5 linked regions of the Homo sapiens genome follow. The protein of the gene in region 5 purifies or fractionates together with the protein of the main gene of each other region. This does not show direct contact. Each region holds a gene or a part of one and is shown on either strand. Other genes may lie near its edges. The genes, in order: NEBL, PLTP, TMEM67, LNPEP and TAFA5.

Region 1 (3,518 bases), on a different chromosome or scaffold from region 5:
AGTATAATCACACTGTCACACTAATTGCTGCACAATCTGGAAACTGGGAAGGCAAAACTATGACTCATTGAGAAGATGCAGGTAATTTGCTAAAAGTTGTATCACTCTGTAATATGCTCGTGTTTATCCTCCCAAGACCATAAATACTTAAACTGAAAAAGTGTTCCTGTTTCAGATGATAAATTATATGTTCTCCCTAATTATAACCCAAAAGTGGAGCTGAATTGTATATACTACCTGGTTCTTAGAGGATGTGAATAATATTGATGTTATACACTAATGGTACATGGAGATTTTCCCATATGCAAGCCTGATTTGACGGGCATTACTTAACCTGTGGTAGAACTAGATACAGATTAAGTGAAGTTATTTCAAAATCCCATATTTCACTGCTGTGACTCTTGGATATCAGATGCCTACCACATTAAACATTTGCTTTATTCATGAAATCAACACGAGAACATATTTATCTTATCTGAGCACTAAATTACTTTTTTTTCTTCTCAGAGATTAGCCATAATTTTAGGTTCCTGCAAATCACCCTCCTCAGCCACTAGTAATTAAACTGTTAATGGCAGTATGATAAATAGTAGGCTATTTTGATCATATGGAGAAAAAAGTATCTCCGTTATATAATTAAGTGTGAGAGAAAATAGCCTATCATTAGGCTTAAGTTTGACTCATTATTTTTATCTTTTGCCACCATCTATTCCCCATCACATTCACATTCTTCACTGCAGTGGTATGTGCTTGTGGCTACAGCCTCCTGATAAAGTCTGACACATGCAGAACGTTCAGGACAGGAGGACTGGATAAGGGTGAGGTATTTACTTCTTCTGTTAGGCAGACAAATAGCTCAGTCTTAATTGTAGACTCTATTTTTTTTTCTTGGGTCTTTATTAAAAAGATACACATATTTGTATATTTTAAATGAAGGTGTATTTAAAATTTAAGATCCTTTACAATTGTACAATTCAAGAGAAATTGTACAATTTGTTAGAAGTCACACACAATCATGTGTGATTTCAAGTGAATTGTGCAATATGAATGACAATAAGCAAAGAATGTTAGATTTTTAAATACATAAGGAATATTTATATAAATATTAGATACATATTAGTAGCCTTCCTACACCAAGATAACAGGAAATGATCATTGAAAGGGAACTATATTGGTCAATGAAACAAATCTTAGGTAAAATAAAAATCACTGAATAGATTGCTATATTTTATTACAGCCATGTCTACATCTTACAATTTCGGGTTGACACCATCTATTGGATAGACTGGCCACTCCCATTATCTCCTATTAAAAGAGCCCAGATGGATTAATGAGAGCAGCCAGGCTCCTGCCCAGCCCCAGAGGACAAGCTGATCTAAACCAGGCATGGTCATGCCATCCAGTGTTTGGCCTGGGGAGCCACACTCTCTGTGACTTTAGTGGAAATCTTCCCAGAAGTGCTTCTAGTGTTTCTGGTACAAAGGGAGAGATGCTGCACAACCCTGTGACATTCTGTCTTCCACATTTTTCTTTCTCAATCAAAGGGAAGGCAGCAGCAATGATGTCATTACCAAGGAATAAGCCACCATACTAATGACGACAGAATAGAAGGAAAGGAGCCTGGGAGACTGATAACACCCATAGTACCCAGCCTGAACTACCTACCTCCGGGCTTTATATGTGGAGGCTGGGGAAACAAAAACCTACTTGTTAAGCCATTGTGTTAGAGTTTTCCTGTTTTTACAGTCATCTGCACTCCTACCGAATACACAACCCAACACCAAAAGACAAAAAGGGCAAAATTGATGACTTTATGATCATTAAGATGTCCCAAACATTGACCTTCTCTTTTGCCCTCACCCACAAATCCCACGTCTCCATTACAATTAGGATGAATTTAGTGCAGGGTCGCTTCCTCCTCCTGGCCAAGTTTGTTTGAATGAGTATGAGATTAGCTAAAGGCTGAAATCGGATGACAGACATGGAGATGTTTGCGGATCTTTCCTTTCACAAGAATTCTTAACTGAAAGTATCTGGAAAGGCTCTTCACAAGTGAAATCATACAAGTTAAATTCAATACACCCTGGAAGGAAAAACAATGGCTCCATCATTATTTAACTGGGCTGGACATAGCTAAGATCACTCTCCCAGGTTTTCTGATACCATCTAAGCTTTCTCTGGAGGAGTAACCACAGAATTTAATGTTTTTGGCATTGAAAGGATTTACCCACAACAACGTTCATTTGCCTGGAAAATATTCTTCCTGCTGCCATGCAGATGAACACCCTAAACAGCCTTGAACTAAACACTGAGAGGCTGCATGCAGATGTGGTCCACCTGCTCTGCAGAAGGCTCTTTCTGCCTAATCTACAAGAAACATACAAAAGATTCCCTTTTGCCCAATCTTTTTTATGACTCCCCATCAGAAGACTACTAGATCCAGGATTCTGAATGCTCAATAGAGAGGATAGGTTTAACTTATTCAAGGGATTGATTAGATAATGTTAGGTTAGACTAACAGGAATAAATATGACAGAGAGAATATCTGTGAAAATATATCTGAGAAAATAATAGTATTATGTGATTAACAGAAAAATAAAAGAGGCTGCCTCAGAAGACCAGCTGTTCTTCAAGACTGGGAAGTGAGTTGTGCAAAGAGGAACCCCATAATGTGGGTAGAGCAAGTGCAAAGCAGAAACTAGGTGGGGGGAGAAAGAGAAAGAAAGAAAAATGCCTTATACTGATGCCCAAAGTGAAGCCACTTGACCTGAAAAACGGACATTTCTCTCTATGGAGAATTCTAAGCAGTGCAGGCTTCCTAGGGCTGATCTCTAGGCCAATCTTGCTTAACATTTCTATAAAATTGTCTGACAAGGGGATGATATAGCAGTGTCTACAGGTCTGCTGACTCCAAGCTGTCTCAGTAAGGGAAACGGCAAACTGAGATGAACTTCAGAAGTTCTCAAAGGGCCAGGCAAGAGGGCAGAAAACTACAGATTAGATCTAGCCCTAGTGTGGTTAAAATAATTCAAACTATTATTTAAAGATGATGGGTCCTAAGCTATCAGCTACAGGTCAGAAATTAGGAATGAAATGGCTCTGATGGTCTACAGATTATCAAGCTGATCTAACAGCTTTCTGCAGCTCCCAAGTCTAAGAAACTCTTCATAGCATCATAAAGGGTGCTAGAAGCTAAGCAAAACATCATCCTGCTCTACACGTGATCTAGACCGTCCACATCTGTACCACTCTGCACAGTTCTGATTATTACATATTGGTTATTAAGGATATATGAAAGCTGGAAGAAGTCCAAAGAGTAACAATTAGGCTGCACCATGAAGAGAAGTCCATGAAACCATCCCTCTCATCTACAGAAACGAAGCAGGGCCAGCCCGGTGGCTCACACCTGTAATCCCAGCACTCTGGGAGAACGATGCAGGAGAATCACTTAAAGCCAAGAGCTTGAGACCAGCCTGGGCAACATAGTGAGACTCCATCTCTACGAAAAAGAAAATGAA
Region 2 (3,518 bases), on a different chromosome or scaffold from region 5:
ACCCCAGCTCTCAGTGGCTTACAGGTATCACTGTACTTTAAGCGCAACATCCCTGTGGACAGGTGTGATTGTCCTCCAATCACTGAGGTGCAGGGAAGTGCGCCTGCCTACCTGCGCAGGTCCAGCTGCGTGCGCAGGGCCTTCCCCCGGAGAGCCATCTTGGCGCTGAGACGGGCGTCCTGCAGGAACATGGGGAGGAGGATGTTACTGACCCAGAAGGTCAGTAACCCACAGCCCATTTTTCCCTGACCCCCAGCCAGCAGCCCCCACTCTGGGACCCGTACCATAGTCATGCTGGACAGCTGGACCTCAGGCTGGTCTGGTGGGACCAGGGCAATGGTGACGCTAGCAGTGACAGAGATGGTGGTGCCAGAGGGCTTGATGGTGCAGCGCGGTGGGGCCAGGACCCGCAGCTCCAGCTTCAATGGGGAGTCAATCACTGCTGGGCTCTGGGGGATGAGCAGCAGGGGCGGGTCAAGTCCCTGCCATTTCCTTTGGAGCCCCCAGGGAAGAAGGGGAAGGAAGGCAGGTGCAGCTTCTGTCCTCTGGGGACTCTCATATTGCAAATACAGAGGGAGCTCTGGCTTCCAAAACTCTCACATCTGCATCTAGCCTTCATGCCTTTGCCACACAAAGAAACAGGAATGTGTTCTTCTCTTTCTGCTTCCTAAATACATCTCAATATTCAGGTCTATCTCCAATCCAGACTCTTTGTGGATGTCCTTTTTGCATTAGTATCTCAGCCCTTGCCATGTCTTCTGTTTTTGATATGGAGTCTCACTTTGTTGCCCAGGCTGGAGTGCAGTGGCACAATCTCGGCTCACTGCAACTCTGTCTCCCAGGTTCAGGCGATTCTCCCGCCTCAGCCTCCCAAGTAGCTGAGATTACAGGCACCTGCCGCCATGCCCGGCTAAGTTTTGTATTTTTAATAGAAACGGGGTTTCGCCATATTGGCCAGGCTAGTGATTCGCCCACCTCGGCCTCCCAAAGTGCTGGGATTACAGGCATGAGCCACCACACCCAAACCCCTTGCCATATCTTTTTGCTCTCTCTCTCCTTTTTTTTTGAGACAGGGTCTCTGTTGCCCAGGCTGGAGTGCAGTGGCATGATCACGGCTCACTGCAGCCTCAACCTCCTCAGCTCAAATTATCCTGCCACATCAGCCTCCTGAACAGCTGAGACCACAGGTTCATGCCATCACGCCTGGCTTATTTTTGTATTTGTTTTTTGTTTTGGTTTTTGCTTTTGTGTTTTCGTAGAGACGGGGTTTGGCCATGTTGCCCATGCTGGTCTCAAACTCCTGGGCTCAAGTGATCTGCCGGCTTCAGCCTCCCACAGTGTTGGGATTACAGGCGTGAGCCACCGTGCCTGGCCATATCTTCTTTCTCTAAACTGCTATGCCTTCTTCTATAGGCAGTGAAGGAATACTATAAGATGCAACTGCCTAATCTTCACCAAACATGATTCTAAACACTGTATATGTGTTGGTTCCTTTAAACCTCATAATAACCATGTGAGGCCGATATTATTACTGCCAATTTTGTTGTTGTTATTTTTTACAAATTTATTTTTCAGGCTGAGTCGTCATGGCAGAGAATTGCTTGAACCCGGGAGGTTCAATTGCAGTGAGCCAAGATTGCGCCACTGCACTCCAGCCTGGGTGACAGAGTGAGACTTTGTCCCCCCACCGAAAAAAAAAGATCTGACTAAAAATTTATTTTTCAATAGAGACAGTGTCTCACTGTGTTGCCCAGGCTGGTCTCAAACTCCTGGGCTCAAGCAATTTTCCTACCTTGACCTCTCAAAGTTCTCAGAGTATAGGCGTGAGCCATCATGCCCAGCCATATCCCCATTTTTGAGATGGGGAAATTGAGGCACAGATAGGTTAAGTAACTTGTAGAGGTTATGTAGTTACTCAGTTTCAGAACTAGGCTTGAAGCCCAGGCAGTCTGACAATAGAGACCCTGCCCTGCCATAAATTGGATGATGATAATGACTGAATTATTTCTTTTAAAATTTGTAATTCTGCTAGGTGCGGTGGCTCACACCTGTAATCCTAGCACTTTGGGAGGCCAAAAATGGGTGATCACTTGAGCCCAGGAGTTCAAGGACAGCCTGAGCAACATAATGAAACTCTGTCTCAACAAAATATAAAAATTAGCGGGGTGTGGTGGCACAAGCCTGTAATTCCAGCTACTCAAGAGGCTGAAGCAGGAGGATGGCTTGAGCCCTGGGAGGCAGAGGTTGCAGTGAGCCTAGATTGTGCCACTGCATTCCAACTTGGGTGACAAAGTGAGACTCTTGTCTCAAAAAAAAAAATAAATAAAATGTGTAACTCTTACTCTCCTCCCCAATACACAAATAAACAAAAGTATATGTGAATTATTATTAAAGCCCTCACACTTGCAAAGCTTGGGTTCTCACTAATCCTCACAGCAGCTCTGCGAAGGAGATGGGGCAGGAAGGAGCAGGAAGGAGCAGACCGCTTCACAGACAGGAACAGCCATGACAAGGCGAGGGGGATTGGCCACAGACAAGAGGCCAGGGCCCTGTCTGCGTGGCTGCCACTGGGGGCCCCACCTGCACCCCTCCTTGGTCTCACTGGTGTGCAGGTGGCCCTATCCCTGCCCCCGCCAGCACTCACCAGCAGGACAATGCTCCCAAAGTAGGTGGCCCTCAGCAGCATGTCCAGGTCGTGGGGCACCTGAACAGGGGAATCAGGAGTGAGGGAGTGAGCTCTGTCACAGACCTTCTCTTGCCCATCCCACAAACAGGCCATGACATACCTTGTCCCCCACCAGCAACAGCTGCAGGGCCCCCGCCCGGAAGTAGCTCTCCATGGCAGAGTCGAAGAAGAACTCAGAGAAGGCCACATACACCATCCGCTCTTCCTCCTGCAGCTGGGGCTCCACTGCCCGGTTGGGGAGGCTCCAGTTCCTCTCAGTCAGGGGGAAGAAGGCCCCCTGGGGTGGGGCATTCACAGTCAGGGTCAAGGCAGACTGGCCTGGCACCTGGACTGACAGCAGGTGTCTCCCAGCCCCGTGCTAGGCACTGTGGGGGGATGGTGGGAACCCAGCTGCTGTTCTTGGAGGATTCACAAGCACATCTCTTAAAAGGCATTGGAAGGAGGACACCTGCTACCAGGGGGCGAGCCCGTCAGACTGGAGGAGGGAGGGTCAGGAAAGGTTTCAGGGAAGAGGTGACATCTGAGTGGGCCTTGAAAGCTAGAGGCAGTAACAACAGCTACTGTTTACATATATTGTGCATACTCATGCTTCTTTGCCAAGTACTCTAAGCTCTTCACATAGATCGACTTCTTTAATCTGCATAACAACGTGTGTTTTCTTACTAGATTATTTCCATTTACATGTTAGGAAACTGGCCAACTGAAAACTTATGCTTAGGGCCGTGCAGCTAGTCAGTGGCAGAGCTAGGATTTGAACTTCAGGCATTCTTTTTCTCTTTGTAGAGAAGGAGGTCTCACTATGATGCCCAAGCTGGTCTCAAACTCCTGGGCT
Region 3 (3,518 bases), on a different chromosome or scaffold from region 5:
TGCAGCAAAATAATACAACAGATAAATCTCACAAATGTTTTCTATTCTTATACTCAAGAGTTCTCAAACCCGAACATGGATATATGCTCTACATAATACTTATTTAATGTATCAAGGATATGAAAAGTTAAGGGAACATCTGTTATAAATGAAAGTCATAACTTTAAAGAAATAAAACTTAGCCAGGCATGGTGGCTCATGCCTGCAATCCCAGCGCTTTGGGAGGCCAAGAAGGGCGGATCACGAGGTCAGGAGATCAAGACCATCCTGGCTAACATGGTGAAATCCCGTCTCTACTAAAAGTACATAAAAATTAGCTGGACGTGGTGGCAGTCGCCTGTAGTTCCAGCTCCCAGCTGAAGCAGGAGAATGGCGTGAACCCGCAAGGCGGAGCTTGTAGTGAGCTGAGATCGCGCCACTGCACTCCAGCCTGGTTAAGAAAGCGAGACTCCATCTCAAAAAAAAAAGAAAAAACAAACAAACAAACAAACAAACAAAAAACTTAAGAAAGTCTAATTTAAAGCATCAGAAAAAAAATCAACTGTAGTATGTAACTGATGCTTTATTCATACAATAATCTTTTCCTCTTGGCTTTGTCTCAGGCAAAAATAATGCATGTTATTAATTCTTTAACTAGAATCATGCTTACCTGTAAAACACCTCCTTCTAAAGTTTGCCACTTGAGAAAATTTCCTCTTATATCATAGGAAGCAGCAACAAACTTCAGTTTTGTATTCTGATTAAAGAAAACGAGCAAAATCAGGTCAAATACTCTGAAAGTAATACAATATCCTATAAAGAAATTTTCATTGTTGACTGATCTTTTTTGTTGAAAAATTACATTCAATTATCTTTATTTTGAGGTTCAATTAATCTATTTCTATGACTAAATAGACCTGAAAGAATTAGACTGGTTTTTTGCATGAAAATTATTATTCTAGAATTGAGAGGCAGCACTAGTGACAGATAGCCTCCTTTTGAACCTGTTAAATAGGAGGCAGTGTGGGAGAATAGTATCTCCTCATTCTGGAAGGTCAAAAAGTTACAGGTAGGAATTTGGCCCTGTGAAGTGCTGAGCAATGTCACAGAGCCCCAATCAATCTTTGGAAGCACTTCTTTAAGGTGTGGAAAAAACAGGACAGAGATTTTTTGCATTTGGTGATGAAAACTGCTCTTCCCAACCCTACAAGTACAACTTCTTGCCATAACCACACAATCCAGAAGTATCCACATATTCAGTAAGATAGCTAAACTCTATACTATTTAGTTCTTATGAGTTGTTGACATTTATATTTAGTTTAGTAACTGAGTTTGTACCAACAACCTAAAAAGGCAAGAATTGTAACTTTATTACCTTTTAAAATTATAAATCAAAATGTAGTTATCCTCTAATGATATTAGACACTTTTACCTGGTTTTCTCCTTTAAAACTGAAATTTGTAGGAAGAGAGGTAGAACTGAGCACTTGAGGTGCTAATCCTAACTGGTCTCCATAAAACAGCCAAGGAAGATTCTGTCTCCTATAAACAGTTACAACTGTTTTAATAATGGAGAATAAATATTTCTTATTATTAGTATTTGTGAATATATTAATAACTGCACTGAATTCAGTCAAAATAACATTTCATCAATCAAAATATCCTTACCAAAATGAAATAGAATGAACAGTGCTCAGTCCAGCAGTATTTTCAAAGATAAACTGAAATAGTCCACATGCATCAAATGTGGCAAAGTCGTAAGAATTCATGTTCATCACACACATATTTCCAAGAGCTTGACAAGATGTTAGATTGGCATATACCTACAACAGAACAATGGCAAAGAAAAGTAACATGAACCTGAACAGTCTATGCAAAAGTTGATATAAAAATTTTACTTTGTGCAGGTCTGTTCCAAGATGGCCGAGTAGGAACAGCTCCGGTCTGCAGCTCCCAGCATAATCAACGCAGAAGGCAGGTGATTTCTGCATTTCCAACTGAGATACCTGGTTCATCTCATTGGGACTGGTTGGACAGTGGGTGCAGCCCATGGAGGGCAAGCTGAAGCAGGGTGGGGCATCACCTCACCCAGGAAGCGCAAGGGGTTGGGGGATTTCCCTTTCCTAGCCAAGGGAAGCCGTGACAGACTGTACCTGGAAAAATGGGACACCTCCACCTAAACACTGCGCTTTTCCAATGGTCTTAGCAAACGGCACACCAGATTACATCCCACGCCTGGCTCGGTGGGTCCCACGCCTACAGAGCCTTGCTCACTGCTAGCACAGCTGAGATCAACCTGCCAGGCAGCAGGCTGGCAGGGGGAGGGGTGTCTGCCATTGCTGAGGCTTGAGTAGGAAAACAAAGCAGCCGGGGAAGCTCCAACTGGGTGGAGCCCACCGCAGTTCAGCAAGGCCTGCTGCCTCTGTTGACTCCACCTCTGGCAGCAGGGCATAGCTGAACAAAAGGCACCAGAAACTTCTGCAGAGTTAAACATCCCTGTCTGACAGCTCTGAAGAGAGCAGTGGTTCTCCCAGCACAGCGTTTGAGCTCAGAGAATGGATAGACTGCCTCCTCAAGTGGATCCCTGACCCTGTGTAGCCTAACTGGGAGACACCTCCCAGTAGGGGCCGACAGACACCTCATACAGGTGGGCGCCCCTCTGGGACGAAGCTTCCAGAGGAAGGATCAGGCAGCAATATTTGCTGTTCTACAACCTCCGCTGGTAATATCCAGGAAAACAGCGTCTGGAGTGGACCTCTAGCAAACTCCAACAGACCTGCAGCTGAGGGACCTGTTAGAAGGAAAACTAACAAATAGAAAGGAATAGCATCAACATCAACAAAAAGGACATCCACATCAAAACCCCATCCACATCAAAACCCCATCTGTAGGTCACCAACATCAAAGACCAAAGGTAGGTAAAACCATAAAGATGGGGAGAAACCAGAGCAGAAAAGCTGAAAATTCTAAAAACCAGAGTGCCTCCTCTCTTCCAAAGGAATGCAGCTCCTCACCAGCAACAGAACAAAGCTGGATGGAGAATGACTTTGACAAACTGACAGAAGTACGCTTCAGAAGGTCGGTAATAACAAACTTCTCTGAGCTAAAGGAGGATGTTCGAACCCGTCGGAAGGAAGCTAAAAACCTTGAAAAAAGATTAGACAAATGGCTAACTAGAATAAACAGTGTAGAGAAGACCTTAAATGACCTGATGGAGCTAAAAGACATGGCACAAGAACTATGTGATGCATGCACAAGCTTCAGTAGCCGATTTGGTCAAGTGGAAGAAAGGGTATCAGTAATTGAAGATCAAATTAATGAAATAAAGCGAGACGACAAGGTTAGAGAAAAAAGACTAAAAAGAAATGAGCAAAGCCTCCAAGAAATATGGGACTATGTGAAAAGACCAAATCTATGTTTGATTGGTGTACCTGAAAGTGATGGGGAAAATGGAACCAAGTTGGAAGACACTCTTCAGGATATTATCCAGGAGAACTTCCCCAACCTAGCAAGGCAGGCCAACATTCAAATTCAGGAAAT
Region 4 (3,518 bases), on a different chromosome or scaffold from region 5:
ACACACTAGCTCCTCTCACCAAGACTCAAGTGTCATGGCAGCCTCCCTTATTTCATCATTGAGGCCCTTCCGACAATTATAGGACAAGCAGACACCAGACATGTATTACATTCTTTCTGTCTTCAAAGCACTTTACCAATACCAACTTAAAAAGATATTTAAACATCTCCTTTTGATTGAGCTCTCAAGATTGAGTTCTCCTCATCATTCCCACTAATCTCTATAAATTTTTCCTCTAAAGAGGATCTTGGAATGATTTTGTAAACCAAAAATAAAATTCTAGGCCCCTCAACTGACCGAATGGACCCCTCTGACTGAACGGCCAAGGGCATTCCAAAGTAAACATGAAAAACTAGCTCAGGCTATGATGGGAAGCGGGGGTCAGACGCACCTCATTATACTCTCCTCCCTTTGGAATTCTGGCACAACTGACCAGCATTAATATTAAAACAGAGATCTTAAGACTGACGAAACACTCTTTGTAGCAATAAAATACCAAATTCTAAACTGACTCTAGTATAACATCACACAACAGATAGCAGGCTGTGAAAGAAATAAAGGTATTTTACCCCAAAATATATTTCTTAGACCTATTTTGAAATGGCCCTGCAAAGCTGTCTCTTGTGTGGAACATTCTATAGAAAAAGACCTTTCTGATCTCTTTTTTTTTTTTTTTTTTTGAGATAGGGTCTCACTCTCTTGCCCAGGCTGCAGTGCAGTGGCATGACCACAGCTCACTTCCACTTTGCCCAGGCTCAAGTGATCCTTTCACCTCAGCCTCTCAAGCAGCTGGGACCACAGGTGCATACCATCACACCTGACTAATTTTTTTTTTTAATTTTTAATTTTTTTGTAGAGACAGGCTCTCACTATGTTGCCCAGGCTGGTCTTGAACTGCTGGCCTCAAGCAATCTTCCTGCCTTGGCCTCCCAAAGTGCTAGGATTACAGGTGTGAGCCACTGCACCACCCCAGGTCTTTTTTTGATCCAGGAGAGATTTAACTAAGAGTCTGGCACATTTTACGTTCTGATAAGAGATAATAACCATCTATTCTCTGAAAGCCTGCTACCTGGAGGCTTCGTCTACATATTAAGAACCCTGGTCTCCATGACCCCTTACCTTATCTTAACCCAGACACTCCTTTCTATGGATTCCAGGTCTTTAGATAATAACTTAATTATTTCGACCAACTGCCAATCAGAAAATCTTTGAATGTGGCCACATGTGTGGCTCATGCCTGTAATCCCAGCACTTTGGGAGGCTGAGGTGGGTGATGACTTGAGGCCAGGAGTTCAAGACCACCCTGGGCAATATGGCGAAATCTCATCTCTACTGAAAAAACACAAAAATTAGCTGGGTGTGGTGGCAACATGCCTATAATCCCAGCTACTCAGGAGGCTGAGGCACAAGAATTGCTTGAACCTGGGCGGCGGAGTTTGCAGTGAGCTGAGATTGCACCACTGCACTCCAGTCTGGGTGACAGAATGAGACTCTGTCTCAAAAAAAAAAAAAAAAAAAAAAAAAAGCAAAAATAAGAAAAACAAAAAAGAAAATCTTTGAATCCACCTATGAACTGGAATAGAAGTCCCCGCTTTGAGTTATCCCCTTTCCAGACTGAGCCAATGTACACTTTACATGTATTGATTGTTGTCTGCCTATAACTTCTGTCTCCCTAAAATGTATAACATCAAGCTGTAACCCAACCATGTTGGGCACATGTTCTCAGGACTTCTTGAGACTGTGCTTTGGGCCTTGGTCACACATTATTTATCTCAGAATAAGCCTCTTTAAAGATTTTACAGTTTGACTCTTTTCATTGACAATGAAATGTTTCATTGACAATGTAATGATGTTTCATTGATGAATATACTAACAACTGTTTTAAATTTGACAAAATAACAGTTTCAGCTGTGAGAAATACTATGGCTTAAGCCTCCTTCCTTACCAGAAATTTTCTCTATGGCACTGAATGACACCTGAGTCAGTTGTCCGGGAAATGCTCCCACATAGCACTGTTCATCACTTGCTGCAAGAGGAAGGGAGCACACCCAACCCATAGAGGCATCCTTTTCTCACTGCACTCCTCATTCTTCTGTTCCCTCAGTTGAAGAAGCCTTCTTTAACTTCCTTCACCCCAGATCATTGGCTGGAGAAGACTCTGAGCCCCACAATCCAGAGAAATTCAGACAACTGATTCAAGTTCTGGTTCAGTGACTACATTTTTGAAATATGTGGAATGCCCAGGAGTACCTTCATTAAGCAATATGTATTAGAAGAAAAAGAATTTCAAAAAGTCTCCTACAATTGAACTTGATCCTCCATTGTTTTTTGAAACTCCCTTGGAAGCTTGAATTTTCCTTATTTGGCAAATGACCTGGTTTCCTCCTCATTTACATGTTAAGGATGGAATTTTAAAAAAATTAATTGGTTCATTGTTCTATCACAAGCACCAGTAGAAAAGTGAAGCAAAGCCAGGCTATAAAGAATAGTAGGCTGGCCACAGGGCCGCACTGGCTCACACCTATAGTACCAGCACTTGGGGAGGTCAAGACAGGCAGAACATTGGAGCCCAGGAGTTCGAGACCAGCCTGGCCAACATGGCAAAACTCCATCTCTACAAAAAATACAAAAATTAGCCAGGCATGGTGGTGTGCACCTGTGGTCCCAGTTACTCGGGAGGCTGAGGCAGGAGAATCGCTTGAGCCTGAGAAGTCAAGGCTGCAGTGCTGTGGCCGTGCCACTGCACTCCAGCCAAGCAAGACCCTGTTCCCGTCCCTCCCAAAAAAAGGAACAGCAAATGACTGCTACCATGGTAGTCCCAAAAGGTAGATAGCTCTCTATAGTTTTCTTTTTTTTTTTTTTAAACAACTGGTAATCATTTATTAAAATAGTTGACTTAAGCATCTGCAATGGTGACTTCAACCTCAACTCCTGGCTCAATAATGATGGAAGTAATCTGCTTAACAATCTCAGAAAGACTGTGGAAGTCAATGAGTCACTTATGGATTCTCATCTGGAAACAATACCATGTCTCAGAACCTTCATAAGAAGTTTTTCTTGTAATGTTTCTCAAAGTCTTGGTAGGCATTCAAACTGGTCCTATCACTTTAGATTCTTTTCCTTTGATCCATTGATCAAGTCGGCACACACCTTCTCCAAGGATTTTACCTTGCAGCTCGTTAGAGTGATTCTTTTTATTTATTTATTTTTTTATTATACTTTAAGTTCTAGGGTACATGTGCACAACGTGCAGGTTTGTTACATATGTATACATGTGCTATGTTGGTGTGCTGCACCAATTAAGTCGTCATTTACACTAGGTATATCTCCTAATGCTATCCCTCCCCCCTCCCCCGACTCCATGACAGGCCCCAGTGTGTGGTGTTCCCCACCCTGTGTCCAAGTGTTCTCGTATTTTTTTTTTTTTTTTTTTGAGATGGAGTCTCGCTCTGTCACCAGGCTGGAATGCAGTGGCACGATCTCGGCTCACTGCAACCTCCGCCTCCTGGGTCCAAGTG
Region 5 (3,518 bases):
ACTCCCTAAATGCAGTGGATGCAGGAAGGCATGGTGAGCTAGGCCAGAAAGTGCCCACCTCATGTCTTAGAGGATCCCCTGCTTCCTGAGGCATCCCCTGAGCATGCATCCCCATCCCCTCTCCAGTGCTGTGCGTGTGTGTTGTGGTGGCCACTGTCGGGGTCACTTTCTTCCTTGTTTTGGGCTGTGAGCTTGGGGCATGGCTGCTGGCCTCGGGGGACTGACTGTGGGCTCTCTGGACAGATGCTTTTGGTCACGGCATCTGCTGGGCAGTGAGCTGTTGGGCTGTGAGCTTGGGGCATGGCTGCTGGCCTCGGGGGACTGACTGTGGGCTCTCTGGACAGATGCTTTTGGTCACGGCATCTGCTGGGCAGTGAGCTGTACGGTGAGGCAGCCACAGGGAACCTCCCAGCTCTCAGTGGGCTGAAGCTCCAGAAGGTCACGTGGATGTGGAAACCCTTCTATACAATGATGTCAACCCTGCAGGCAGAGGAGCCAGGGGAGTCAGGGACGCCTGACCAGCTGTGGGGGACAGAGGAGGGCCCACTTGTGGTAGGCGATGTCTTCTGACGTCACCCACTCCACCCAGAGCTGGGCACAGAGGGGTCTGGCTCTACCTCTGCTGGGACTGCCTGCTCGTTTAGGGCGCTGTGTGGTCCTGGTTTGCAGGTGCACCGCAGGGAGAGTTGTGAAGGGCAGGCGGGGTGGTCCAGCCATCAGGGGCCCTGGTTTCCTGGGGGTTAACGGCGTAGGCTGTGCCACCTAAAGGCACATGCAGGAATCTGTCGCCCACAGCATCTTCATGCTTGGTTCAGGATCTCTGAATGAATATAGGAAAGAAAATACAGAGAAAGCAATACCACTAACACAGTAACAGGCTGCTGTGCTTGCATTTCACCTTCCAGAAAGAGGCTTGGCGCCCCCTCACCTCCCAGCCACCAGGGGAGGAGCTGCTGGACTGGAGGCCCCCTCCTTATGGGGAGCGGTGGGGCTGGTCCCGCACAGGGACTGCAGGCCTGCCTGCCTGACTCCAGGTCTGGGCTTCCTCCCGGTGCCAGCTCCACTCCCCACGGGCTCGGGGCTCCCCAGCAGTGGCCCATCCATGGAAATCAGCCCTGCCAGGGACCATGGCCCCGTTCCGCCCCCGCCTGCGGTGTTCCAGGCCGCGCCTCCCTCCTTCCCGTATGGGCGGACCTTGCCCTGGGTGGAGGGAGGACGCAGGGAGGAGAAGCCGGGGCCTGCGGTCCCACGGGGCCCGGCAGGGTTCTTCCATCTTCAGGGATGCTCCGCAGCCTCGCTGCTGGTTTCTGGGCCAGCCCCTTGCCCCTGTTTCTGCACTCGTAGAACAGCTCTAGAAAAGACGGCATTTCCGCCTCAGCGCAGCCAAGAAGCTTGAAAGACAAGACTGGAGTGTCCAGTGGCCAGGGGTCATCAGTCTGGGTTTAGGCCTGGGGGCGGGGCTGAGGCCTGGGGGCGGGGCTGAGGGTCAGAGGAGTAGCTGGAATCCTGGGGGCGGGGCTGAGGCCTGGGGGCGGGGCTGAGGGTCAGAGGAGTAGCTGGAATCCTGGGGGCGGGGCTGGAGGCCTGGGGGCGGGGCTGAGGGTCAGAGGAGTAGCTGGAATCCTGGGGGCGGGGCTGAGGCCTGGGGGCGGGGCTGAGGGTCAGAGGAGTAGCTGGAATCCTGGGGGCGGGGCTGGAGGCCTGGGGGCGGGGCTGAGGGTCAGAGGAGTAGCTGGAATCCTGGGGGCGGGGCTGAGGCCTGGGGGCGGGGCTGAGGGTCAGAGGAGTAGCTGGAATCCTGGGGGCGGGGCTGGAGGCCTGGGGGCGGGGCTGAGGGCAGGGGCAGGTTTGGAGGCCTGGAGGCGGGGCTGAAGGGTGGGGTGGGGCCCACCTGGAGGCGGGGCTGAAGAGTGGGGTGGGGCCCACCTGGAGGCGGGGCTGAAGAGTGGGGTGGGGCCCACCTGGAGGCGGGGCTGAAGAGTGGGCTGAGGGTAGGAGAGGCTGCAAGCCTAGGGGTGGGGCTGCAAGCCTGGGGGCGGGGCTGAAGGGGCAGGGCTGGGGGCCTGAAGGCGGGGCTGAAGAGTGGGGTGGGGCCCACCTGGAGGCGGGGCTGAAGAGTGGGCTGAGGGTAGGAGAGGCTGCAAGCCTAGGGGTGGGGCTGCAAGCCTGGGGGCGGGGCTGAAGGGGCAGGGCTGGGGGCCTGAAGGCGGGGCTGAAGAGTGGGGTGGGGCCCACCTGGAGGCGGGGCTGAAGAGTGGGCTGAGGGTAGGAGTGGCTGCAAGCCTAGGGGTGGGGCTGAAGAGGCAGGGGCTGGAGGGCTGCTGTCCTCTTGCAAACTAAGTCTCCTGGATTCCAAAGATATCTTTGGTTCTAACAGTTTGATTAATAATAATAATATGTGGAATACCTGGGAAGAGCTCAGAATTGGTAGGTATATTTAGTAGGACTTTTCTCGTTGCTAGAGTGGAAAACTCAAACCCTCCTTTTGGCCTCTTTTTCTGGACTTCTGCAGTGACAGCTCCCCAATCTTTGTTCTCGTTAAAGTTGCACTTGTTCCAATTTCTCCCAGTTCAGGGTTTCTCAGGGCAGCACTGGGGTCATTTAGAGCTGGGCCATGCTCTGTGGCAGGGGTCTGCCTGTACATGGCGGGGCTTTGCGAGCACCCCGGCCACCCCCCACTTGATGCCAGGGGCCCCTCCTCCCAGTTGTGACAACCAAAGATGTCTCTGGACCTTGCCGCCTGACCCTGGGACAATCAGCCCACTGGAAGCCCTGCTCTAGCGCACCTATACCTTGTCTGTGGCCCCAGCAAGCACACTTGTGCTGGTATTTCCTGGTGTGGACTCAATACCAGCAGGGTGGCAATCTTACAGTTTCTGGGTTTCTCCACTTCTGCAGCTGGACGGGCCAGCGTGGGGGTCTGAGGAAGTTCAGCCCAAGTCCCCGTCCCGTGCGTGTCCCTTGCCTCCCGTGACTGTTTCTCTGTGCAGAGACAGCTCCTGCAGGCTCAGTGCAGCCCCTCCCAGACCGGCGGAGCTGCTGGAAAGGCTGTCTGCCGGGAGGGAGGTGTCTCTGCACGTTTCCACACACTTCTGTTTCCAGAGCTTGGAATCAGCGCAGGGTTCACCAGTTGCTTGCAATCTCTTCTCTGTCTTAATTTCTCCGCATTTCACATGTAACCGTGCTGCCGATGGTGATGAAGCCATTTAGAGGCAATCAAACACTCCCGCACCGACGGCGGCGCCCATCAGCCTTTCCCCTCATCTTCCTGCTTGTTTCATTACGCCTGCCTTTCCAGGAGGTGGCTGAGTCCCCAAGTGTGATTTTTGGAGATTTCTGTGGTGTCTACAGCCCGCATTTCCTAAGTGGATTTCTCCCCAGGAAGTTCTGCTCTGCTGGTGGGACCCTTGGTTGCCTAGAGTTTGCTTTATGTCCATCTCTGCGCCTCCCCCAGCCTAGCACCGACGTGCCCTTCTGTTCTAGCCGGCTCCCCTGACTCTGGTCCCTGGTTCCTGGTC

The links.
Region 1: the proteins of TAFA5 (region 5) and NEBL purify together in Homo sapiens (affinity purification with mass spectrometry; one large-scale study listed by BioGRID and IntAct). This does not show direct contact.
Region 2: the proteins of TAFA5 (region 5) and PLTP purify together in Homo sapiens (affinity purification with mass spectrometry; one large-scale study listed by BioGRID and IntAct). This does not show direct contact.
Region 3: the proteins of TAFA5 (region 5) and TMEM67 purify together in Homo sapiens (affinity purification with mass spectrometry; one large-scale study listed by BioGRID and IntAct). This does not show direct contact.
Region 4: the proteins of TAFA5 (region 5) and LNPEP purify together in Homo sapiens (affinity purification with mass spectrometry; one large-scale study listed by BioGRID and IntAct). This does not show direct contact.

The regions. Positions count from the first base shown.
Region 1 is NC_000010.11:20,890,804-20,894,321, forward strand, and holds part of NEBL (nebulette), read right to left. Parts: intron 1-3,518. UniProt on the Homo sapiens protein: Binds to actin and plays an important role in the assembly of the Z-disk. May functionally link sarcomeric actin to the desmin intermediate filaments in the heart muscle sarcomeres.
Region 2 is NC_000020.11:45,902,156-45,905,673, forward strand, and holds part of PLTP (phospholipid transfer protein isoform a precursor), read right to left. Parts: intron 2,964-3,518; coding exon 2,787-2,963; intron 2,705-2,786; coding exon 2,645-2,704; intron 450-2,644; coding exon 285-449; intron 180-284; coding exon 112-179; intron 1-111. UniProt on the Homo sapiens protein: Mediates the transfer of phospholipids and free cholesterol from triglyceride-rich lipoproteins (low density lipoproteins or LDL and very low density lipoproteins or VLDL) into high-density lipoproteins (HDL) as well as the exchange of phospholipids between triglyceride-rich lipoproteins themselves.
Region 3 is NC_000008.11:93,778,876-93,782,393, reverse strand, and holds part of TMEM67 (meckelin isoform 1 precursor), read right to left. Parts: intron 1,802-3,518; coding exon 1,647-1,801; intron 1,521-1,646; coding exon 1,412-1,520; intron 737-1,411; coding exon 650-736; intron 1-649. UniProt on the Homo sapiens protein: Required for ciliary structure and function. Part of the tectonic-like complex which is required for tissue-specific ciliogenesis and may regulate ciliary membrane composition.
Region 4 is NC_000005.10:96,942,568-96,946,085, reverse strand, and holds part of LNPEP (leucyl-cystinyl aminopeptidase), read right to left. Parts: intron 1-3,518. UniProt on the Homo sapiens protein: Release of an N-terminal amino acid, cleaves before cysteine, leucine as well as other amino acids. Degrades peptide hormones such as oxytocin, vasopressin and angiotensin III, and plays a role in maintaining homeostasis during pregnancy.
Region 5 is NC_000022.11:48,496,043-48,499,560, forward strand, and holds part of TAFA5 (chemokine-like protein TAFA-5 isoform 1 precursor), read left to right. Parts: intron 1-3,518. UniProt on the Homo sapiens protein: Acts as a chemokine-like protein by regulating cell proliferation and migration through activation of G protein-coupled receptors (GPCRs), such as S1PR2 and FPR2. Stimulates chemotactic migration of macrophages mediated by the MAPK3/ERK1 and AKT1 pathway.